Regions from separate parts of the Homo sapiens genome. Here all the other regions are linked to region 2. Evidence: fine-mapped expression QTL. A gene starts in region 2. Each other region holds a variant in brackets. All regions are shown on one strand. Distances are between the middles of the regions. Region 1 overlaps ATP6V0A1 (ATPase H+ transporting V0 subunit a1). Region 2 holds the start of ATP6V0A1 (ATPase H+ transporting V0 subunit a1). Region 3 overlaps ATP6V0A1 (ATPase H+ transporting V0 subunit a1).

Evidence for each region. PIP is the estimated chance that this variant, and not a neighbour inherited with it, causes the effect.
Region 1: its variant is fine-mapped to the expression of ATP6V0A1 in whole blood (TOPMed, PIP above 0.99).
Region 3: its variant is fine-mapped to the expression of ATP6V0A1 in whole blood (INTERVAL, PIP above 0.99).

Annotation. Positions count from the first base shown.
Region 1 is chr17:42,484,825-42,492,824 of GRCh38, reverse strand. ATP6V0A1 (ATPase H+ transporting V0 subunit a1) reads right to left here. Exons shown (of 22, transcript NM_001130021.3): 10 at 5,458-5,670; 11 at 2,188-2,338. Among named protein-coding and RNA genes, the nearest start is that of MIR548AT, 5.9 kb to the left of the region's middle. The variant CATT/T (reference allele first, on the strand shown) is at 3,329.
Region 2 is chr17:42,454,367-42,462,700 of GRCh38, reverse strand. It overlaps ATP6V0A1 (ATPase H+ transporting V0 subunit a1), which reads right to left and starts at 3,823. Exons shown (of 22, transcript NM_001130021.3): 1 at 3,738-3,823; 2 at 1,690-1,853. The coding sequence starts at 1,806. RefSeq lists a silencer at 3,754-3,963 and an enhancer at 4,114-4,203.
Region 3 is chr17:42,497,537-42,505,536 of GRCh38, reverse strand. It overlaps ATP6V0A1 (ATPase H+ transporting V0 subunit a1), which reads right to left. Exons shown (of 22, transcript NM_001130021.3): 15 at 6,495-6,613; 16 at 4,614-4,830; 17 at 4,233-4,340. Among named protein-coding and RNA genes, the nearest start is that of MIR548AT, 6.8 kb to the right of the region's middle. The variant T/C (reference allele first, on the strand shown) is at 3,182.

The sequences.
Region 1 (8,000 bases), 30 kb before region 2:
AGGCTGGTCTCGAACTCCTGACCTTAAGTGATCCTTCCACCTTGTCCCCACAAAGTGCTGGGATTACAGGCATGAACCACCACGCCCAGCCGATGAACTTTTTTTTTTTTTTTTTTTTGAGACAGAGTTTCACTCTTTTTGCCCAGGCTGGAGTGCAATAATGCAATATCGGCTCACGGCAACCTCCGTCTCCCCGGTTCAAGTGATTCTCCTGCCTCAGCCTCCCGAGTCGCTGAGATTACAGGCAAGAGCCACCATGCCTGGCTGATTTTGTATTTTTAGTAGAGACGGGGTTTCTCCATGTTGGTCAGGCTGGTCTCGAACTCCTGACCTCAGGTGATCCACCTGCCTCGGCCTCCCAAAGTGCTGGGATTACAGGCGTGAGCCACCACACCTGGCCCAGCCGATGAACTCTTAAAGGAACGCTACCTGACAGTAAACCTGCCCCTTACATTAAATGGGCATCTTTTTGTTGTTGCCCAAGCTGGAGTGCAGTGGCATGATGTCGGTTCACTGCAACCTTTGCCTCCTGGGTTCAAGTGATTCTCAGGCCTCAGCCTCCCGAGTAGCTGGGACTACAGGTGCATGCCACCAAATCCGGCTAATTTTTGTATTTTTAGTAGAGGCAGGGTTTCACCATGTTGGCCAGGCTGGTCTCAAACTCCTGACCTCATGTGATCCACATGCCTCAGCCTCCCAAAGTGCTGGGATTACAGGCGTGAGCCACCATGCCCTGCCAGAATGAGCACCTCTTCACAGGGAGTACACAAGATCTGAGGTGTCAACATGTTTATTTATTTTTTAATAGAGATGGGGTCTCACTATGTTGCCCAGGCTGATCTTGAAATCCTGGGCTTAAGCAATCCTCCTACCTCGGCCTCTAAAAGTGCTAGGATTGGCTGGGCGCAGTGGCTCACGCCACCCAGCACTTTGTAATCCCAGCACTTTGGGAGGCCAAGGCGGGTGGATCATGAGGTCAGGAGATCGAGACCATCCTGGCTAACACAGTGAAACCCTGTCTCTACTAAAAATACAAAAAAATGGCCGGGCGCAGTGGCTCACGTCTGTAATCCCAGCACTTGGGGAGGCAGAGGCAGGCAGATCACCTGAAGTCAGGAGTTAGAGATCAGCCTGGGCAACATGGTGAAACCCCGTCTCGACTAAAAATACAAAATTAGCCGGGCGTGATGGCACATGCCTATAATCCCAGCTACTCGGGAGGCTGAGGCAGGAGAATCGCTTGAACCTGGGAGGCAGAGGATGTGGTGAGCTGAGATCGTGCCATTGCACTCCAGCCTGGGCAACGAGAGTAAATCTCTGTCTCACCTAAAAAAAATAAAAAAAAAATTAGCCGGGCATGGTGGCGGGTGCCTGTAGTCCCAGCTATTCGGGAGGCTGAGGCAGAAGAATGGCGTGAACCTGGGAGGCAGAGCTTGCGGTGAGCCAAGATCACGCCACTGCACTCCAGCATGGGTGACACAGCGAGACTCCGTCTCAAAAAAAATTAAAAATAAAATTAAATTAAAAAAACAGTGCTAGGATTAACATCTTTAATTTTAATTCAGTTATTCAACAGCATTTAAAGTGAGGCATTAGAAGAAACAATGAACAAAAAGGCCAGGCATAGTGGGTCACACCTGTAATCCCAGCACTTTGGGAGGCTGAAGCAGGAGGCTTCCTTGAGCCCAGGAGTCCAAGACTAGCTTGGGCAACATAACAAGACCCCGTCTCTAAAAAAAATTAAAAATTATCAGCCTGGGCAACATAGCAAAACCCATCTCTAAAAAAATTTTAAAAATTAGCCAGGCATGGTGACACATGCCTGTAGTCCCAGCTACTCCAGAGGTTCAGGCGGGAGAATCACTTGAGCCCACGAGGTTGAGGCTGCTGTAAGCCGTGATTTCACCATTGCACTACAGCCTAGGCAACAGAATGAGACCCAGTCAAAAAAAAATCATAAAATAAAAAATTAGCCAGGTGTGGTGCTGTGCGCCTGTGGTCCTAGCTATACAGGAGACTGAGTTGGGAGGATCTCTTGAGGCCAGGAGTTTGAGGCTGCAGTGAACTACAGTCGTGCTGCTGCACTCCAGCCTGGGTGACAGAGGGAGACTCTGTCTCAAAACAAACCAAACCAACCAAACAAACAAAAAAAACTCTAGAGGAAAAAGATAACAAGCTTTTTTTTACCTGGATTTATCTCTCGGTAAGTTCCAATTCCATAAGCATCTACTATGTTCTGAAAGCCATAGGTAAACTTGTTGGTTTTGTTATAGGTTGGGGGAGTCTGGTTTGTCTGCATCCTGTTCAAAATGGAAGGTACAGTGGAACCACTGTGTTCCTGAAAAACATTAGCACATTTATCAAACTTAGGTTATCCTCCTAATTGTGGTAGTGGTTACACAGGTGTACATTTCTTGAAACTCATCAAATGGTACACATAAAATGTATGTATTTTCTTTCATGTAAATTATATCTCAATAAAACTAATAAACCTAAAAATAAAACTAGATTATCTTTCCCAGCTTTTGGGAAAACTGGGAAAAGGTATAACATTTATAATGGAAGATTTCTATTAGATCCTCTGAAATACATCCTTAATGTGAAAAAAATTTAACTTTAAAATATGTCACCAAAGAAAATGTGGAACTGCCTCCATATCTGCCTTTTTATGAAAGTTGTTCTCCCCCTTTCATGGAGAAAGCAAAGTATGTTCTCTGGCTCTCCTTCTTCACTACCTTCTCTTAACTTCCTGATCCCTTGCAGTCTGGCTGAGCATGCTTAGGCAAAGTGACTGGCTCCTGACCAAAGAGCTTCTCTCCCCCATGCACGCCCCTGACATTGGAGATCTTTGGTGAAAATCCTTCTTCCTTAGGAGTTCTCCTCCTGCTCGCTGACCATTGCTTTTCTATCTTTGCTGGTTATTTCTGCTCTGCCTATCTCATAGCATTGCAAGACCCCAACCTTTTTTTTCTCTCTATGACCTCCCTCTTGGAGGTCTCATTCCCTTCCATTCTCATGACTCCCATTTCCTTAGCTTTGTTCCCTTGTCTGCTTGACATTTCCACATAGACCTCAATGTGCCCGGAACTGAACTTACCATCTCTCCCCAATCAATAAGCTTCTCTGGCTGAACATTTACTTCCCTCATTGGAACCCTAATTCTCCTGGCCAGTCAGCTTTGATGCCTCAAAAAGATGTTTAAATCTTTCTCCTTGTATTTCTCCTGCACCTTGCTAGGAACCAGGTAGCCCTATTGATTTTTCCTGCAGAACATCTCACAATTCATCATTTTTTTTCCCATTGTCAAGTCCTACCTGGGGATCCTTAT[CATT/T]TACTACTCTATGTCTACAATAACCTCCTAACTGAACCCCTACCTACAGAATCTCTTCACTCCTCAATCCAACCTAGATACTATCAGCAGATTACTCTTTTAAAACTGCTTTGAGCCAGGAGAAGTGGCTCATGCCTGTAATCCCTGCACTTTGGGAGGCTGAGGCGGGTGGATCACCTGAGGTCAGGAGTTCGACACCAGCTTGGTCAACGTGATGAAACCCCGTCTCCACTAAAAATACAAAAAATTAGCTGGGTGTGGTGGCGCACACCTGTAATCCCAGCTACTCAGGAGGCTGAGGCAGGAGAATCACTTGAAGCAGGGAGGTGGAGGGTGGAGGTTGCAGTGAGCCGAGATCATGCCACTGCACTCCAGCCTGGGCAACAAGAGCAAAACTCCATCTCAAAAAAAAAAAAACCAAAAAACAAAAAAACTGCTTTGATCCACCAGGCGTGGTGACCCACTTTTTTTTTTTTTTTGAGACAGAGTCTCACTCTGCTGTCCAGGCTGGAGTGCAGTGGCATGATCTCAGCTCACTGCAACCTCTGCCTCCTGGGTTCAAGTGGTTCTCCTGCCTCAGCCTCCTGAGTAGCTGGGATCACAGGCACCCACCACCATACCTGGCTAACTTTTTTGTATTTTTAGTAGAGACGGGGTTTTGTCATGTTGGCCAGGCTGGTCTCAAACTCCTGACCTCAAGTGATGACCCGCCTCAACCTCCCAAAGTGCTGGATTACAAGAGTGAGTCACCACGCCTGGCCCCAACACTTTGGAAGGCCAAGGAAGGCAGATCACTCGAGCCCAGGAATTTGAGATCAGCCTGGGCAACATGGCAAAACCCTGTCTCTACAAAAAATTAGCCACGCATGATGGTGGGCACCTGTAGTCCCAGCTACCGGGAGTCTGAAGTGGGAGGATTGCTTAAGCCCAGGAGTTGGAAGCTGAAGTGAGCTGAGATGGCACCACTGCACTCCAGCCTGGGTAACAGAGCAAGATCTTGTCTCAAACACAAAATTAAAAATGTAAAAAACCACCCAAACTGCTTTGATCATGTTCCTTTACCCCTAAAGAACTTCCAATGTCTCTCAACTTCCTCTGGAATAAAATTTAAATCTTCTAAGCTATTATTTAAGAACCTTTCACAATTAAGTTCCAAACTACCTGATGCAGACAGGTACTTCTCTTCAGCTAACCCACTGTAAATCCTGTTCTTGTCCAAACATACATGGTCTAACCATACTTCCTGCCTTTGTTTTCTTCTCTTCATTCAGCAGTCTTACCAACAACTTATCATTCTTCAAAGACCTGATCAAATGCCACCTGCTTAAAGCTTTTTCCAACTCCATAGTTGGAACTCTCCTAATAAACTGTAAGATACTCGAGGGCATGTTTTATACATCTCTGTACTCCTCCAGGCACTTACAGCACTTCTGTGGACAGAGTAGTTGTTCTAATTAACTACTAAACAGAAACAGTCATATACAGAGAGGGCATCAGGAAACTGATGCCCTGGCCATGAACAACCCTGAAGAATCATGGGCATATGACCAAATTATTTCAGCTCTCTGAACTGCAGTCTCCACATATGCAAAATAAAGATATGCTATGCTACGCTATGATATACATATTATATGCCAGGCTATGTATGAAATGTGCTGTCAAGTTAAAAGACAAATAAATATATTGAAGAACTCTGAAGGTGAAATGCCATAAAAATGACATTAATGTTACTATTTATTTATTTTTTATTATTATTTTTTTTTTTTGAGACAGAGTCTCGCTCTGTTGCCCAGGCTGGAATGCAGTGGCGCAATCTCAGCTCACTGCAAGCTCCGCCTCCCAGGTTCACTTGATTCTTCTGCCTCAGTCTCCAGAGTAGCTGGGACTACAGGCGCCTGCCAACACGCCCGGCTAATTTTTTGTATTTTTTAGTAGAGACGGGGTTTCACCGTGTTAGCCAGGATGGTCTCGATCTCTTGACCTCATGATCTGCCCGCCTCGGCCTCCCAAAGTTCTGGGATTACAGGCATGAGCCACCGCGCCCGGCCAAAAATGACATTAATGTTACTATTGATGGGAACCTCTCTTCCGGGCCACGAGCTGCATTGTTAGCTTTGGGGACTCACCGTGCCCCTTCTGAGTGCAAACTGGATGGAGTCAAGGTCGGTGACAGGGCACCAGACCTCTGCAATCAAGCATTTCTGAGTCACATCTATGTTGCACAGGTTCAGGGTGTGATAGATGGCCTTCATCTTCCGCACTTTGATGAACCAGACACGGATGTTCTTAGCAGCTGCCTGCAGAACCCTCTGGCGGTGATCCTCCGTTTGATTCAGAACCTTTGGGGAGAAAAGGAACAAGCGAGGGATCCTTTTAACACCAGTTTTAGATCTCAGGGTATGAATGGCAAAGAGGCATAGCTTTCTGAAAAGAGTTGCCAGGGAATTGTCTTTTTCTTCCTCTGGCTAGAATGGTTTCTTTTTTCCAAATTACAAGAAATTAGAGTTCTAGTTACTAACATTCACTTTTATTTAGCTTCAACCTAAAAAGAAACCTGAGAAAATAGTTTAGCTTTTCTATATATGTTCAATCTTACCACCAATCCAAGGCACAACAAATGTAGGTCACTGCCTTTAACTTGGCTTATTAAAGAGCAACGACTTTCTATGTGGGGAATGTAACTCAGTAGGCATCACAAGCCCAGGAGCTGACAAATTAACAAATCCACACAGAATCCTTTGCACATGGGCCAGCATCAGGAGAGGGTGGAAAGAGGCAGTGCTGAATACCACCACCAGCCTACACTGGGAACATGGGCCAGGAGACGCCATGGGATCAGGAGCACCTGTGATCTTTACAGGGGGCTTGGACTGCCACATACCACTGCCATCATGAGGGCAGCTAAGGTGTTACCTTTATGTCAGGCTTCTCATCAGAGGAAAAAATGGTTCAGTGTTGATCCTTTTGAAATCAGTACAGATTTCCCTCAGAGGAATTACAGTGCCAAGACTAAGGTGGGAGGAAGGTACAGGAACATTTTACATTCCACTGGCTTAATACCAAATATTTAATTTTTTTTTTTTGAGATGGAGTCTCGCTCTGTGGCCCAGGCTGGAGTGCAGTGGCGTGGTCTCAGCTCACCACAACCTCCACCTCCCGGGTTCAAACGATTCTCCCGCCTCAGCCTCCTGAGTAGCTGGGATTACAGGCGCGCGCCACCATGCACGGCTAATTTTTATATTTTTAGTAGAGACGGGGTTTCACCATGTTGGTCAGGCTGGTCTCGAACTCCTGACATCGTGATCCACCCACCTCGGCCTCCCAAAGTGTTGGGATTACAGGCATGAGCCAACATGTCCAGCCCATATTTAAGTTTTTAATAGCAGGTGTGGCTAAGCCTGTTGCTTCCAACTGGAAGAAATTAGGCAAGCAACCCAAAGCACAAGTCTCCATCATAGACAATTCTTCAAGTTAGTTCAGAACAAAGCAGTAACTACTCCCTGAAAAATTGTCTTGGGCAGAGGAAGGTGACTTCCTTTGTTTTGTTTTGCTTTGTTTTTAAAAGCAAAGCCATGTCATGCTAGGAAACACATCACTTGAAGATAGCTACTTTCTTTCCTTCTGGTTGTGGACTATTTCACAATTACTATTACTCACTCCTGTAATCCCAGCACTTTGGGAGGCCAAGGCAGGAGGATTGTTTGAGGTCAAGAGTTCCAGACCAGTTTGGGCAACATAGTGAGACCCTATCTCTACAAAAACATACCAAAAAATAATTAGCTGGGCATGGCAGCAGGCACCTGTAGTCCCAGCTACTTGGGAGGCTGAGACAGATTGTTTGAGCCTAGTCGGTCAAGGCTGCAGTGAGCCAAGATTGTGCCACTGCATTCCAGCCTGGGTGACAGAGTGAGATCTGTCTTTAAAACAAAACAAAACAAAACAAAACAAAACAAACAAACAAAACACAAAAAACCCTTCTTCTAGAAGGATGCTAAAGAAACTAGCAAGCAATGTTCTATTTGCCGTTCTCTTTCCTCATCCCATTCCTTGGTATTCAATCCCTTTTTAAACTTTCAGTTCCTACAGCTAGATTTTTAAAAAATCAAATTCTGGTCAGTTATAATGACTACCACATATGCTCTTTAAATCTACCCATAGGTCTGGAAGGAGATTAAGACAGCCTTAGAACCCAGAATATACTAATATAGCCTATCACTCACCAGCAGTTCTAAAACTCTCTCTCTCTGCTTAAACAGGTTAAGTGTATCTCAAAGGAGCCAGCAATAGGTCAGGTTGGTGGGTCATATATGATGGAGGTCACTGAGAGTTAAAATGGAAGTTACAGGCTGGGCACGGTGGCTCATACCTGTAATCCCAGGACTTTGGGAGGCCGAGGCAGGCAGATCATCTGAGGTCAGGAGTTCAAGACCAGCCTGGCCAACATGGCAAAACCCCATCTCTACTAAAAATACAAAAATTAGCCAGGTATGGTGGCAGGCATCTGTAATCACAGCTACTCAGGAGGCTGAGGCAGGAGAATTGCTTGAATCTGTGAGGCAGAGGTTGCAGTGAGCCGAGATCGCGCCACTGCACTCTAGCCTGAGAGACAGAGCAAGACTCTGTCTCAAAAAAAAAAAAAAAGAAAAGAAAAGAAAAAAGAAATGGAAGT
Region 2 (8,334 bases):
TGCCTGTAATCCCAGCACTTTGGGAGGCCGAGGCGGGTGGATCACCAGAGGTCAGAAGTTCGAGACCAGCCTGGCCAATGTGGTGAAACCCCGTCTCTACTAAAAATACAAAAATTAGCTGGGCATGGTGGTGCATGCCTTTAGTCCCAGCTACTCAGGAGGCTGAGGCAGGAGAATTGCTTGAACCTGGGAGGCGGAGGCTGCAATGAGCTGAGATCACACCACTGCACTCCAGCCTGGGCGACAGAGTGGACTCTGTCTCAAAAAGAAAAGCAACAACAACAACAACAAAAACCACACATAGGAGAAATAAAAGCAAAACAAATCACTGTACGGGTTACCTCTGGGGTGGAAGAAAGGACTGGCATGGAGCAAAGAGAAACAGAGGTTTCAATTATACACGGAATGTTTCCCTCTTAAGCAGATAGTAGAAACATAGGTGGTCATTATAATACTCCCCCCACCTCTTTTTTTTTTTTTGGTTTTGAGACAGTGTCATGCTCTGTCACCCAGGCTGGAGTGCAGTGGCATAATCACAGCTCACTACAGCCTCGACCTCCTGGGCTTCAGCGATCCTCCCACCTTAGCTTCCCAAGCAGCTGGGACCACAGCCATGTGCCACCACATCCGGCATTTTTTTTTTTTTTTTTTTTTTTGGCAGAGACGGGATCTCCCTATGTTGCCCAGACTGGTCTCCAACTCCTGGGCTCAAGCGATCCTCCTGCCTTGGCCTCTCAAAGTACTGGCATTTCAGGTGTGAGCCATTGCACCTGGCCCCTATCTCTTTTTTTTGTATGACTGAAGTACAGCATAAGTAAAAGAAAAGAAGGCTGAATAGAGCCAATAGATGTTAAGCAGAGGGACAACATAGGACCAGATGAAGAACTGCAAATTAAGGATGACAAGTTTTTTGTTGTTGTTGTTGTTGTTTGAGACGGAGTCTTGCTCTGTCGCCCAGGCTGCGTGCAATCACACAATCTCGGCTCACTGCAACCTCCGCCTCCCAGGTTCAGGCGATTCTCCTGCCTCGGCCTCCCGAGTGGCTGGGATTACAGGCCTGCGCCACCATGCTAATTTTTTTTGTATTTTTAGTAGAGTCGGGGTTTCACCATGTTGGCCAGACTGATCTCAAACTCCTGACCTCCCGATCCGCCCGCCTCAGCCTCCCAAAGTGTTAGGATTATAGGCGTGAGCCACTGTACCCAGGCTAGATTGTCCATATTCTTTAGATAGCTTCTCCAAGTGCCCAGTATAATATTCCAAAATAATGAATATTCAGTATATGCTTATTTATATACTATATATCTGTAGCTGGATACCTCAAATTTTATTTTTTTTAAAATGTCCTACTATATGGAAAAACTGCAATATATTTTTTTAAATACCTTGCTATTTAGCAAGTGAAAGCCTTGATCAGGTTAGTTTGGTAACCTCTCCCTGCATCCCAAACAATTACCTGGAGAATGCTTAGGACTGTTCTGAAAGTGGGAGCTAGCAAAAGCATGTAAAGATTGGCACAAAACATTCTCACCTTTAGAAAGACAACTCAAAATGTGCATTCTGCCAATAGGAAGTCAGTGCTATAATGTTATTTTTGCAAATAAAAAACAAAACATTCATCATAAGGCATCTGACCACGATAGCAATAGAGTTCAGCAGTAATCAAGTCGCAGCCCCACAACTACTTACGTCACGAAACTGAACCTTTCCAAGTTCTCCTAATTCACTGACACAACAATAAGCAGCCTCTGACTGTAGAAAAAGCTGGGCCAGTGTCATTTCTTCACTCCGGAAAAGCTCCCCCATGGTGGCAGAAGGTACCAGTCTAGTGAGTACCTGGATTTCTCTCCAACCTGAAGCAAAGAGAAAATGACATAACTTTGGAAATTACCACGAGGGCTAAGAGCAAATGACACCCCACTACGGCTCTTGCATTTACATTTCTAACACCCCATGAGGACAGGTCAACAACTGTTTTTGACACCCTGTCTAGAAAGATGGAAAGGAGAAATTGCAAAGGCAGTTCCTGAATTCTGTCCCACAGAGTGTCAGATGAAAAGTCACTTCCATTCCAGTCAACATCAGGATCAAATGACAATTATTTTGGGCAACTCAACTGATAAGAATGTATCCAGATTAAAGACAGGAACTGGGAACCTCAAACAACTCTTTAAATACCCAGGACACAATATTGAGGCAGTGAGTTTCACACTGCTCAATCTGTTTTTGCTAGTGCAGGAAACAAACAGAAGAGGCCTTCAATACCCTCTCATAAAGATGTCTGCCTTGTAACTATCCTTCTCCCTTCTACTGACAATGCGCATTTCTAAAAGCCCAAAGTTCTGGCACTATCCTAAAGCTATGGCTACACTAAAGGGTTTAATCTTCCAGATTCCTCAGAAAACAATATTTCCCCACTTAGGAATTCAAACAAATAACCGTCATCTGGAAAAAGCAACCAGTTTGCATATTAAGCTCAATTTCAAATCAAGCATGACAGGAACACACTGATAATGACAAAGCAGTTTTATCAAGCCACAGAGAATAAGCCTTCCACCTCTGCAGCTTTCTGTTTCTCAACCCTACCTTCAAGATTAATTACATTCTTCCATCTGTCAAATCTCATGAGCCAATAAAGGTTTCGTTTTAGTGCTGTCTTACTGTTGCCGGGTATGAGACAACTGGCGCTATCAGTGGTCCTGAAACTGCAATTATTTATTCTCGATCAGCTAATGTAAGGCACAGCCTGTCCAGTATCCAAACTCAGAAAAATGCACAGTATTTTTAGTGTCATAAGGGCATCTATACTGAGTACTGATAGATGAGTCTGACATCAAAGGAAGATTTACTCTTCTGGAAGGCTGGGAGACATTTTGAGAAATCTGAACGAACAAACCTTTGTGCATGTGATGTTCAAGACAGTAACACAAGCTCAGACATAAGCAAGGACTTCTCAAGAGAATATGCAGGCTGACTTTAAGATTCTGTACATCTGAATCATCCAAATCAGCTGTTACCGGCACCACCCTTAAACAAAGAGAGATTCTACAACCTCTAAACACATAAAATTAGGCCTGGTCAGCATAGTTCAGGAGCTGTGGATAATGATAAGCCTCCAACGAGTCGCCTCCGTCCTCCTGCTCTTTAATGATTATAGGTCTCCCAAGAATATCTCTATAGCAATGGAGGCTAACAGAAAACTAATTAGGCCAAAGTAGTTCTGGACGATCACAAAACAAAATATGAAGAAACAGCAATTCTGCAAAAGATGAGTCCAACTACAGCGCCCCCGCGCCCTGCCTAGAAGAATCTCACTCCTGTCATCCGGTCCTCGCCTCCTCCCACGGTATTCACCTGCTTCATTTCCTGTCTACCCAATGAGCAGGAATTCTCTGGACTCAGGCTCATCTACCTTGAGATGGGAAAAAAGGAGAGGAAAACCCCCAAACTGAGAAACCCTTTAAGAAGCCCCCTAAATTCTTCTGCCTATCCAATAACCTCCGGTTCCTCCGCCTACCCCTTAAAGCAGGGAAGAGATGCGGGGCTTCCAAAGGGCAGTGAGCCTCCGGTTCCTCAGGGCAGAGGAGGGGTGCCCAAGGAGGGGGCGAACCCCCATTTTATCTCGAAGACGTCAGATCCCCGCTAATTCCTCTGACAATCAAGGGGGCTCTTAGAAGGATTTCCTACGTCCATCGAGGGCCGCTCCCTGTTGCGCTAAACCTACAGCCCCCACTCACCTCCAAACTCCGCCACAGCAACCGCCACAGAAACCACCGCAGCCAAACCCGCACCCTCCGCGGCTCCAGGAGCAGCGCTTCGACGTGCTTGCGTCCGTAAAGCCCCGCCCCTGCGCCGCCGCCGGCCCCCGCCCCCGCAATGACCTCATTGCAGTTGGCCAATGGGGCGCAGCCTCGCCCGGGCTGCAGCAGTGCGGAGTCACGGGGGTCGCAGGCGAGACCCAGCGTGCTGACGCCATGTTGGCCCCTGTGCTGTATCTCCACGCTGGGGAGGGTTAGCGGGTGGGGCTGGAGGTGCAGGTGCTCGAGGCCTTAAGTTCCTGAGCCTCCCTGAATCCTTTTTCTTACCCCTTATACTGGGGTAGGTTGTCTTTTCTCTTTCTTTTTTTTTTTTTGAAGTCTCATTCTGTTGCTCAAGCAGGAGTGCAGTGGCGTGATCTCGGCCCACTGCAACCTCCACCTCCCGGGTTCAAGCGATTCTCCTGCCTCAGCCTCCCAAGTAGCTGGGACTACAGGCACGCACCACCATGCCCGGCTAATTTTTGTATTTTTTTTTTTTTTAAGTAGAGACGGGGTTTCACTATGTTGGCCAGGCTGAGTCTCGAATTCTGACCTCGTGATCCACCCGCCTCGGCCTCCCAAAGTGTTGGGATTACAAGCGTGAGCCACCACGCCCGGCCTTTTTTTTTTTTTTTTTTTTTTTTTTTTAGATGGTCTGTTTCCCAGGCGGGAATGCAGTGGCGCGTTCTCGGCTCACTGCAGCCTCCGCCTCCCGGGTTCAGGGGATTCTCCTGCCTCAGCCTCCCTAGTAGCTGAGATTACAGGCACGCACCACGCCACCCGGCTATTTTTGTATTTTTTGTAGAGATGGGGTTTCGCCATGTTGCCCAGACTGGTCCTGGCCTCCACCCGCCTCGGCCTCCCAAAGTGCTGGGATTACAGGTGTGAGCCACCGCGCCCGGCCCTCTCTTTATTTTCATATCCAAAGAATTAATTCACACATACGCACCCAAATAATTAATGTCTTCTCTCTTTATTTTCATATCCAAAGAATTCACACACACACTCAAATAATTAATACGCAGACACATATACCACCCTTTCTCTTTTCCCTTATTTTACAGATGAGAACATTTGAGCCCCAGACTGGGGAGCGGCTAGCTTTAGATCCTGTAGTAGAGTCTTTAACGGGGTCTCATTTGCATAAGTATGGAAAACCTCTCTTTAAATGGTACATGGTTCATGCCTTCCAGCAACTTCCCCGGGTCTATTTTTCTCTGTTTAACAGGAAAAACCTCATCAGACCATATGTTGTGAAAGTACATTTCAGTCTTGTTTGGTAGATTCATGTGGGCTCAATTGACCACTTAGGAGTTTTCAATTCCTCAAATTTATTTTAAAAACATTTTTTATGGCTTGTACTCAACTTGTAAATTAAATATTGAAAAACATTTTTTAAACGCAAAAGTGATGTCTATTATTTTTTAAATGCCATTATCAAATATTGATATTGATTCCCTTTTCTTGCCCTTTTAAAGAAGAGTAGGGATCTCAAGTCGTTTGTGATAACCAGAATTGTATCAGGAAAAACTCAGAAAACCGGTTATTCTGTCTTCCTGGGTGGTGGAACCCTGTTGAAATTCAAGTGTAATGAGGGAGATATTCCAGATAAAAACTTGTTGCTGATAATTTTGTCAACCTGACAAAAACATCATCAAACCTGCTTTACCAGCCTAAACAAAATAAGGGGACAAAAATGGACGTTTTATTTGAATTTATTGTCTCATATTGTGAGTGAAGATATAACCTGACTTCAATACAACCTTCTTAAGACACAGAGTCTTGGAGAGACCCATACCCTCCTTCTCCCTGCTCCCTAGCTCTCAACCCTTCTGGCAAGACAGATCGGGACCCACATTTAAAAGCCTGCCAAGTTAGAGAAAACTGTTACACAATATCATTTCCTTCCTCTGAGACTTAAAAAAAAATTAACCTCAGTCAGCTGCTTGCTAACCACAAATTTTTCATACTCCACTTTTAAGACAGCCTTTCCTGTGGACTTACTTCAATTCCCTTGAACTCTTTTCACGGCTTCTTTGAAAGAATATTGTTTCAGAACTCCTTTTCTGTTTGCTTCCATCTCCTGCCATCAATCTTTCCTCAGTGTTCTATTTATTTTCCCTCCATGCTGTCTTCCTTGATGGTCTTGAGTGTTGTCAAGCTTAAACGTTTATGTGTAGGACTCTTATCTGTTTTTCCACCTGACTTCCTTCTTCAAGACTCAGAAATGGAATTTCATACTGCCTGCTTGATAGTGCCTTTTAGGCAGCAGATGCTTGCTGAGGGCCTACTGTGTGCCAGAGAGGGGTACTAGGTGCTGGGGATAGAAAATGAAACAGACATGCTTCTTATCCTTGGAGAGCTCATGGTTCAGTGAGAAAGAAACTTCCCAAATGGCAAGAGAGAGAGGAGTGCAGTGATTAATACTTACTATGTGCCAGGCACTTTTCTACATGCTTGGTAAATACAAACTCATTTAATCCTCACAACAACATTAGGAGGCAGTTACTATTATTATCCCCATATAACAGATGATATGGTAAAACTGAGGCATATGTCCAATAAGATCAAATTTAAAATGCTGTTGACCACACCTACAGCCCTAGAAGACATGAGCAATTCCATATGAGGCTTGGCCAGTGACACAGTTCCGAGTATCTAAACCGAGCTATTCCCTAGCATTTGTGAAAATGGCTAAAAAACAATTAAAGCCAGGTGTGGTGGCTCACGCCTGTAATCCCAGCACTTTGGAAGGCTGAGGCGGGTGGATTACCTGAGGTCGGGAGTTTGAGACCAGCCTGGCCAACATGGTGAAAACTCATCTCTACTAAAAATACAAAAAATTAGCTGGGGATGGTGGTGCATGCCTATAATCCCAGCTACTCAGGAGGCTAAGGCAGGAGAACCACTTGAACCCAGGAGGCGGTGGTTGCAGTGGCCAAGATCGCGCCATTGCCCTCCAACCTGGGCAATAAGAGCAAAACTGAGTCTGAAAAAAAAAAAAACAGTTATAAAGATTAGTTCTTCACTACCACAAAAAGAATAGAACAGAGGTAGGGATCTAACTGATAGAGTCTCAAAATGTTACAAGAATTGTCACTGTAGTGAAATTATTAAATGTGGTTTTTTATCTTTAATTTTTAGTTTGAATGAATGCGTGTCAATTGTCCAAATTTCCACCAGTGAAGAATCAGCTAGCTCATCTTAGCTTATCCCACTTAGATTCCTAGATGGGGCCTAGAGGAGAGTTTTAACGTTAAGCCCGGTGTTTTGAAATACGTATCTGCTCCAGTGTCTTCTCCACAGGCTTCCAGTATTCGTTTCCCTAAGGCTGCCATACAAATAACCACAACCTGGGTAGCATTTAAAACAACAGAAATCAGGTCAGCCGAGGTGGCTCACGCCTGTAATCCTAGCACTTTGGGAGACCGAGGCCAGCCTGTCACCTGAGGTCAGGAGTTCGAGACTAGCCTGGCCAACATGGGGAAACCCCATCTCTACTAAAAATACAAAAATTAGCAAGACATGGTGGTGGGCGCCTGTAGTCTCAGCTACTTGGGAGGCTGAGGCAGGAGAATCACTTGAACCCAGGGGGCAGAGGCTACAGTGAGCCAAGTTTGCGCCACCTCACTCCAGCTTGGATGAAAAAGCAAAACTGTGTCTCAAAAAAACAAAAAACAACAGAAATCGGCCATGCACGGTGGCTCACTCCTGTTATCCCAGCACTTTGGGAGGCCAAGGCAGAAGGATGGCTTGAGCCCAGGAGTTTGAGACCAGCCTGGACAACACAGCAAGACCCACGTCTGTAAAAAAAAAAAAAAAAAAAAATTAGCTGGGCATGGTGGCACGTGCCTGTAGACCCAGCTACTCAGGAGGCTGAAGTGGGAGGATGGCTTGAGCCTGAGCCAGGGAGGTTGATGCTGCTGCAGGGAGCCGTGATTGAGCCACTGCATTTCAGCCTGGGTGACACAGTGAGGCCCTGTCTCAAAAAAACAAAAACACCGAAATTTATTCTCTCACAGCGGAGGCTAGAAGTCTGAAATTAAGGTGTCTGCAGAGCATGGTATCTCCAAAGGCTCTGGGAAAGAATCCTTTCTTCCCTCTTCCTGGCTTCTGGTGGTTGCCAGAAATCCTTGGTGTTCCTTGGCTTATAGATGCATCATTTCAATTGTTGCCTCCATCGTCACATGGTATTCTTTCTTCTATATGTCTTTTTTTTTTTATTTGAGATAGAGTCTTGCTCTGTCGCCCAGACGAGTGCAGTGGCGCAATCTCAGCTCACTGCAACCTCCACCTCCCAGGTTCAAGCAATTCTCCTGCCTCAGCCTCCTGAGTAGCTGGGATTACGGGTGTGCACCGCCACGCCCAGCTAATTTTTGTATTTTCAGTAGAGACGGGGGTTCGCCATACTGCTCAGGCTAGTCTCGAACTCCTGGCCTCAAGTGATCCACCCGCCTCAGCCTCCCAAAGTGCTGGGATTACAGGAGTGAGCCACTGCACCCGGCCTTCTCTATGTGTCTCTGTCTGTAGGCAAATT
Region 3 (8,000 bases), 43 kb before region 2:
GAAACCCCGTCTCTCCTAAAAATCCAAAAATTAGTCCAGGCACAGTGGCTCACACCTGTAATCCCAGCACTTTGGGAGCCTGAGGCAGGTGGATCACGAGGTCAGGAGTTCAAGACCAGCCTGGCCAACATGGTGAGACCCTGTCTCTACTAAAAATACAAAAATTAGCCGGGGGAGGTGGTGGGTGCCTGTAATCCCAGCTACTCAGGAAGCTGAGGCAGGAGAATTGCTTGAACTGGGGAGGCGGAGGTTGTAGTGAGCCAAGATCGTGCCACTGCACTCTAGCCTGGGCGACAGGGCAAGACTCTATCTCAAAAACAAAACAAAACAAAAATTAGCCAGGCGTAGTGGTGCATGCCCATAATCCTAGCTACTCATGAGGCTGAGGCAGGAGAATTGCTTGAACCTGGGAGGTGGAGGTTGTAGTGAGCTGAGATCGTGCCACTGCACTACAGCTGGGTGACAGATCAAGACTTCATCTCAGAAAAAAAAAAAAAAAAGTGATTATCACTATGAAACAATCTTCAAGATACACTAACTTTTAAAAAACGTAATAGATCGAGAGGCAGAACAGTGCCACAGTTTAAAACACAATTCCTCATGTGTCTTTTTCTAGATGCATAGAGCACACACACACCTATCAATAGAAGACAGGCAGATATCTGTCAGAGGCAAGGCCCCCACCTGTTAACAATGCCCCCTGAAGAGGAGGACTGTAGTGGGGGCAGGTGGTTTTCTTCTTAGTTAGCACTATATGCATTCTCTAGCCAAGTGCACCTATTGCTTTATTTTTTTAATGTCAGTAGGGGATTGTCAGGACCATGAAATTATGGGCCACTTTTATTTCTTCTTCCACTTATTTGTTTTAATACCCTAAGAAACAAATTCAAAGTCTACCAGGTGACTGTGATGTGCAGTCAGACTTGTGGGCCACCAGAGCCTGGACACCTCCAGGTCATGCACATATTCCACCTGGCAACCCTCAGAAGGTGGACTGAAAATGCAACGAAGGGCACAGGAGGGGACTCCTGCATAACCTCGGCTGGGTTATAAGATATAGGAGGAAGGCTTCAAGGTTCAAGGCTCCCAAAGTAGAAGGCCATTTCTGAAGCTTTCTCCAACTAGCAGATAAACTGAGGAGCAGACAGGTTAAATCTCCCAGCCAGACACTAATAATGATCTCTTCAGAACACAGGAATGAGAGTTACAGGAAGGGGGATGAGAGACACATGTCAGCAGAAAAAAGAAAAGAAAAATTAAACTGTGATATATCACTCACAGACAACCAAGGGGACAAAGAACAGAACAAAACCAGATCACTGTTCATATCCTCAGCCCTCTGGGGTCAAAAATCCAGAGACTTTCTTGTAGACTGATCATCCTGATGCCTTCAGGCTGCTCTCCAGGAACAGATGTTTGGCTAAAGAACCAGTGGGGTAAGAAGACCCTATGAATGTGCAGGTTTCCAAACGGGGAACTTTTAACTTAGAATTTATCACAGAAGAAGTCGCAAGACTTAAATGCATTAAGATCTTGTCAGAAGCACATCTTATATATGCTAAGACTAGCAGAAAAAAGAGTATGTGTTAAGGACATTGACAATAGGTAGTATGTGTTCTAAAGGTTTGTTAAATGTCTCACAGGGAAGTCCCTACTTGAAAATGTATTTTAAGCAGCAAGATTAAAATTTTTTCTGACTCAAAATGTCAGCCCTTTTAGACTAGTTCCAGAAGGATGACTTAGACTAGTTCCAGAAGGATGACCATAAGAAATTTTCCAAGTTTAAAATCATCAGAAACACTTAATGAAGGAAATGGTTATCCATCTAAATCTTTCATTTTATTTAAAGAAGTATATGCTTCGAGCACATAGAAGTAATGCGTAATCACTACTGGTGAGACTTTTACAATCTTATAGATTCATTCATAACTTAGAATATATTAGGCTAATATATTTGTGCATTGTAAGATTTTGTTTAAAAGATGTTTTTAAGGACAAATATTCAAAGTGCTGTTACTGAATCTTGAATTAGTATCAGAAGAGGGAAGGATCAAGACAGATCACTTTGGTTATGACACCAGATGACAGTACACACGACACATCGGAGAGCAGAGGTCTCACTGGAACAGCTGAGGACATGTGAGGTCTTCTGAGTTTCTCACAAAAAACTAAACATGTATAAACTTTCACTTTCAAAAAGAAGGTAAGTTACTACTAAAAAAGATCAAATGTCCAAGCATCACTCTAAAGTAGAACTCTAAAGTGCAGGGAAATCAATTCAAGAATCACAGAGATATTCTCGCTTCCATGCTGAAAAATCATCCAATACATGGTCACAAAATACAGACATGAAAGTGGGTGAGTCCAAGAGCTGTCATCTTGGATTAAGATGATGGGACTCAGTGAGGGTACAACAAGCCACTTTGTTGCCATGGACATGCCTGTACTTACATTTTTGAATAGAAACTTAGTAGACCAATGCTAAAGATGATGCCAGAATCTATTCTTAAGAGGTGGAACTTCTGTCATCATCTCAGTGAGTAACAAGGACATATTTCCCAAAAGTACACATGTCCCATGCTCTCAATTTAATTAAAAAGAATTCTGCTGCACTGTTTGCCACCTCTTTAAATGAAATGTGATGGTTTGTTGGTTTTAATTCACTCACTGTTGCAGCCGCTGCTGCCTCTAGTCCCTGTTGGCTCGGGTTTGGGCTGACTGGGGCCTCCACAGGTTGCCCTTCCTGATAGTGAATGGAAGAAAAGAAGAAGGGGAAAGAAAACAAAAGAGGGAGGGAGTGAAGTGGGGAGACAAATGGAGGGTACATGGAAGGATGAAGATGGTCAGAAAAGGGAGAAGGAGGGTCTTGTAACTCAGCTGCTCTCCACGGGAGTCATCATCTAACAGCCGTTTAAGAGTCATGCAACAAGATCGTTTGGGTTTTCCCAGGCAGTGTAAAGTAAGTGCTATTGGATACCCAGAAATTATGCATGATACTGAACATCTCGCAAATTTAACTCTGTGTGTGTGTGTGTGTGTGCGCGCGCAGAATTCATATACACACAGACATTAAGTAAACGTATATACATATGCTGCTTTTTAAAAAGAAAAAAAATCAACGTGCTTTAAACCAAACCTTTTTCCCAGATGTTTTGGTCAGTGAAAGTTATCACAGTCTCAT[T/C]TGAAAGGAAAATGTCTCAATGTCAGTCCTGTGGTTGCCCAGGCAAACCGCATGAGTGAGTTCACCCATCTGCAGCTCTTGCAGCTTTGCTTGGCTTTGGCTGATGCTACATCTAGACAGGCATAGGCCTACATTTTCCTGAGCGCAGCGTGAGCAAAAGCATGACCAGGAAAGGTAAAAATTTGTGACTTTTCTCTCCTCTAGCTACTCAAAGCTGAATCCAGATATCTTGAGCAGCAGACATGTTTCTCTGACTTGGCAGGCCCAGTGCTCGTGCTGGGACATAACACAAATGCGTTTTGTTTGTTTGGTTTTTTGTTTTTGAGACAGAGTCTCACTCTGTCCCCATGCTGGAGTACAGTGGCACAATCTTGGCTGACTGCAACCTCCGCCTCTCAGATTCAAGCGATCCTTCCACCTCAGCCTCCCAAGTAGCTGGGACTACAGGCACGCGCCAACACGCTTGGCTAATTTTTGTATTTTTAGTAAAGATGGGGTTTCACCATGTTGGCCAGGCTGGTCTCAAACTCCTGACCTCAAGTGATCCACCCACCTCGGCCTCCCAAAGTGCTAAAGTGCTGGGATTACAGCAGTGAGGCACTGCGCCCGGCCACAAATGCGTTTTAATAGTATACAGATTTGTGGCCGGGCATGGTGGCTCACGCTTGTAATCCCAGCACTTTGGGAGGCCAAGGTGGACGGATCATGAGGTTAGGAGTTCGAAACCAGCCTGGCTAACATGGTGAAACCCCGTCTCTACTAAAAATACAAGAATTAGCCAGGTGTGGTGGCGTACACCTATAATCCCAGTGACACAGGAGGCTGAGGCAAAAGAATTGCTTGAACCTGGGAGGTGGAGGTTGCAGTGAGCCAAGATCGTACCACTGCACCCCAGCCTGGGGGACAGAGCGAGACTCCGTCTCAAAAAAAGAAAAAGAAAAAGAAAAAGAATATATAGATTTGTGCACAATTAATTATATCCACTGGGGAATTGCCTTGATCTTGAACAAAACAAAAGTCTAGTAACTTTTAGCAATAGAAATACACCTACCAAATGCTTTCTCCTCAAATACTGACGGCGAAGGACCAATGGTTTAAACAGCAGCATCCAAGGTACACACAGTAGTGCAACCACTACCAGGAAACACTGAATTCCTTTCTGCAGAGTAAGAAGAAGGACAAGGTACATCATATAAAAGTCTACCGATCACATACGCAGTTTCCAAATATGGCACAAATTTCCCCCAACAGTACTTTCTTACTAATCTATGAATAACACTATCCAATTTCTCAAAATAATTATCACATTTTGTGGCAAAGCCCTAGAATTGTCCCATAGAAGGGCAGTTATAAATTTTTTAGGGTCAGAGAAACATCTGGCTTCCTGATCAAGTATAATCATCTCAGACAGTCTGCCTCTGGGCTGACGTACCTGTCCAGAATACAACATTGAATAACCAGACTCTGGGTAGGAAAAGAGGAACATGTTTATGAAATGGATCAGAAGGCTTGGTGCATTCTCAGAGGTATGAGCATCATAGGCCGTCCACTTGTAAAAAATAAGGATAACCAAATAGCCAAACAAAGAGGTCATGAAGATTATTTCAGGAATAAATCCAAAGTAGATATTCAGGGGCTTCTTGAAATAGCTAAAAAGGAGAGAGAAAAAAATGTTAAGGGTAAATGGGCCTAGGGCCACTCCTACACTGAATGGAGTATTCACTAGATTTTTCTACTTAATACCCCCTCAATTCTGTCTTTATCACTTTAAGCAGCAGCAACCAGAAGCTGGAGACAACAGAGACAATGCAGGATTAACTATCACGGTCAAACTTTTGAACCTTGGTTTTGTTTTGCTGTTGCTTTTTCTTTTTTGAGACAGGGTCTCACTCTGCTACCCAGCCTGGAGTACAGTGGTGCAATATTGGCTCACCGCAGTCTTAACCTCCCTGGGCTTAGGCAATCCTCTTACCTCAGCCTCTCGAGTAGCTGGGACTACAGGCATGCGCCACCACACCCAGCTAATTTTTACATTTTTTTGTAGAGATGGGGTTTTGCCATGTTGCCCAGACTGGTCTTGAACTCCTGACATCAGGTGATCTGCCCGCCTTGGCCTCCCAAAGTGCAGGATGACAGATGTGAGCCATTGTGCCAGGCCTTAAACTTTTGAACCTTGAACGGCTCCAATACCATCCCCACCATTCTCTCCATGAGAAAGAGAATGGAAAAATCTAGTACATTTTGAGACCACAGTTCATAACTTTTTTTTTTTTTTTTTTTTGTAGAGATGGGGTCTTTTGCCGTGTTACCCAGGCTTGTCTTGAACTCTTGGGCTCAAGTGATCCGCCTGCCTTGGCCTCCCAAAGTGCTGGCATTACAGGTGTGAGCCCCCACACCCAGTCCACAGCTAATAATTTTATGTGAGTTGCACATCAAGGAAAAAAAGAGACCTCACTTATTTTGATGAAAATTGCTCAAGTTTTTTTCAAGGATCTTTACTGGAACAGTAAATTGTTAAAGGACTAATATTAAGTCTAATTTAAGACCATCAACATTTTTTTTTTTTTTGAGATGGAGTCTTGCTCTGTCACCCCGACTGGAGTGCAGTGGTGTTATCTTGGTTTACTGCAACCTCTGCCTCCTGGGTTCAAGCAATTCTCCTGCCTCAGCCACCAGAGTAGCTGGGATTACAGGTGCACGCCACCACACCCGGCTAATTTTTTGTATTTTTAGTAGAGACGGAGTTTCACCATGTGGGCCAGGCTGGTCTTGAACTCCTGACCTCAAGTGATCTGCCCGCCTCATCTTCCCAAAGTGCTGGATTACAAGTGTAAGCCACTGCACCCGGCCAGACCATGAAATTTATTTATTTATTTATTTTTTTTGAGGCAGAGTCTCACTCTGTCGCTCAGGCTGGAGTGCAGTGGTGCCATCTTGTCTCACTGCGACCTCTGCCTCCCAGGTTCAAGCAATTCTCCTGCCTCAGCCTCCCGAATAGCTGGGAATATAGGCGCGTGCCACTACACCTGGCTGATTTTTGTATTTTTAGTAGAGACGGGGTTTCATCGTGTTGGCCAGGCTGGTTTCGAACTCCTGACCTCAGGTGATCCACCGGCCTTGGCCTCCCAAAGTACTGGGATTACAGGCATGATCCACCGCGCCTGGCCACACCATTAAATTTTTAGAAAAGCACTTCTATAATGTAGAATGAGGTTCTGAGTTATTAATCCCTCCCCAAAGATGTCATGATTTCTTTACACAAAAGCATTCTCTAAACTATGCACATTCTTATGACAGAAATGGAACAACTCACATATGGTTGAACAGACTCAGGCTGACTCCAAACAGCATATGGATGATACCAAGGATAACAGACATCTTCATCTTAAAGGAGTTCAAGAACGTCAGTTTATTGGTAGCAATGTTCCAAATCTGTCATAACCCGAGAAAACAAATAGGTATTATAAAGAATTCTCAAAGGGAAAAATATTCCTCTGTTTAAAAAACAATTTTTATTTATTTATTTATTTAGAGACGAGTCTCGCTCTGTCACCCAGGCTGGAGTGCAGTGGCGTGATCTCAGCTCACTGCAAGCTCTGCCTTCCGGGTTCACGCCATTCTCCTGCCTCAGCCTCCCAAGTAGCTGGGACTACAGGTGCCTGCCACCACGCCCAGCTATTTTTTTGTATTTTTAGTAGAGACAGGGTTTCACCGTGTTAGCCAGGATGGTCTCGATTCATGACCTCGTGATTCGCCCGCCTCAGCCTCCCAAAGTGCTGGGATTACAGGCGTGAGCCACCGCGCCCGGTCGACAATTTTTATTTATTAATCAATATTATTTATTATGGAAAATTCTAAACAGATACTTAAGCAGACAGGATGGTACAACAAACTCCCAGGCACCTATCACTCTGCTTCGACAAAATTTTTTTTTTTAATCTTGCTTTTGAGGAGAATGCTTCAAAAATTAACATCACCTTATAGTCATGAAAAAAGATTACTGCCACTCACTCATCTCCACATTACTAAAAAGTCCAGATATCATGTCATTTTACCTGTAAATATTTCAGTGTGGATGTCTAAAAGGAAAAGACTTATTTATTTATTTATTTATTTATTGAGATGGAATTTCGCTCTTTTTGCCCAGGATGGAGTGCAGTGTTCATGATCTCGCTGACTGCAACTTCCACCTCCTGCCTTGCCTCAGCCTCCCAGGTAGCTGGGATTACAGGCACAGGCCACGATGCCCAGCTAATTTTGTATTTTTAGTAGAGATGGGGTTTCACCATGTTGGCCAGGCTGGTCTCAAACTCCTGACCTCAGGTCTGGCCTGAGGCTTGCCTCGGCCTCCCAAACTGCTTGGATTACAGGCTTGAGTCACTGCGCCCGGCCAGTAAGGCTTTTTTTTTTTTTCTTTTTTTTTTGAGATGAACTCTCGCTCTGTCACCCAGGCTGGAGTGCAGTGGTGAAATCTCGGCCTATTGCAAGGTGGGGTTTTCACCATGTTAGCCAGGAAGGTCTCGATCTCTTGACCTCATGATCCGCCCGCCTTGGCCTCCCAAATTGCTGGGATTACAGGCGTGAGCCACCGCGCCCGGCCAGGACTTATTTTTAAAACATGACCACAATATTGTCATCACACGTAAATGCATTAACAATGATTTCTTTTTTTTTTTTTTCTTTTAGATGGAGTCTTACTCTGTCGCCCAGGCTGGAGTGCAGTGGCATGATCTCGGCTCGCTACAACCTCTGCCTCCTGGGTTCAAGCAATTCTCTGCCTCAACTTCCCGAGTAGCTGGAATTACAGGTGCTCGCCACC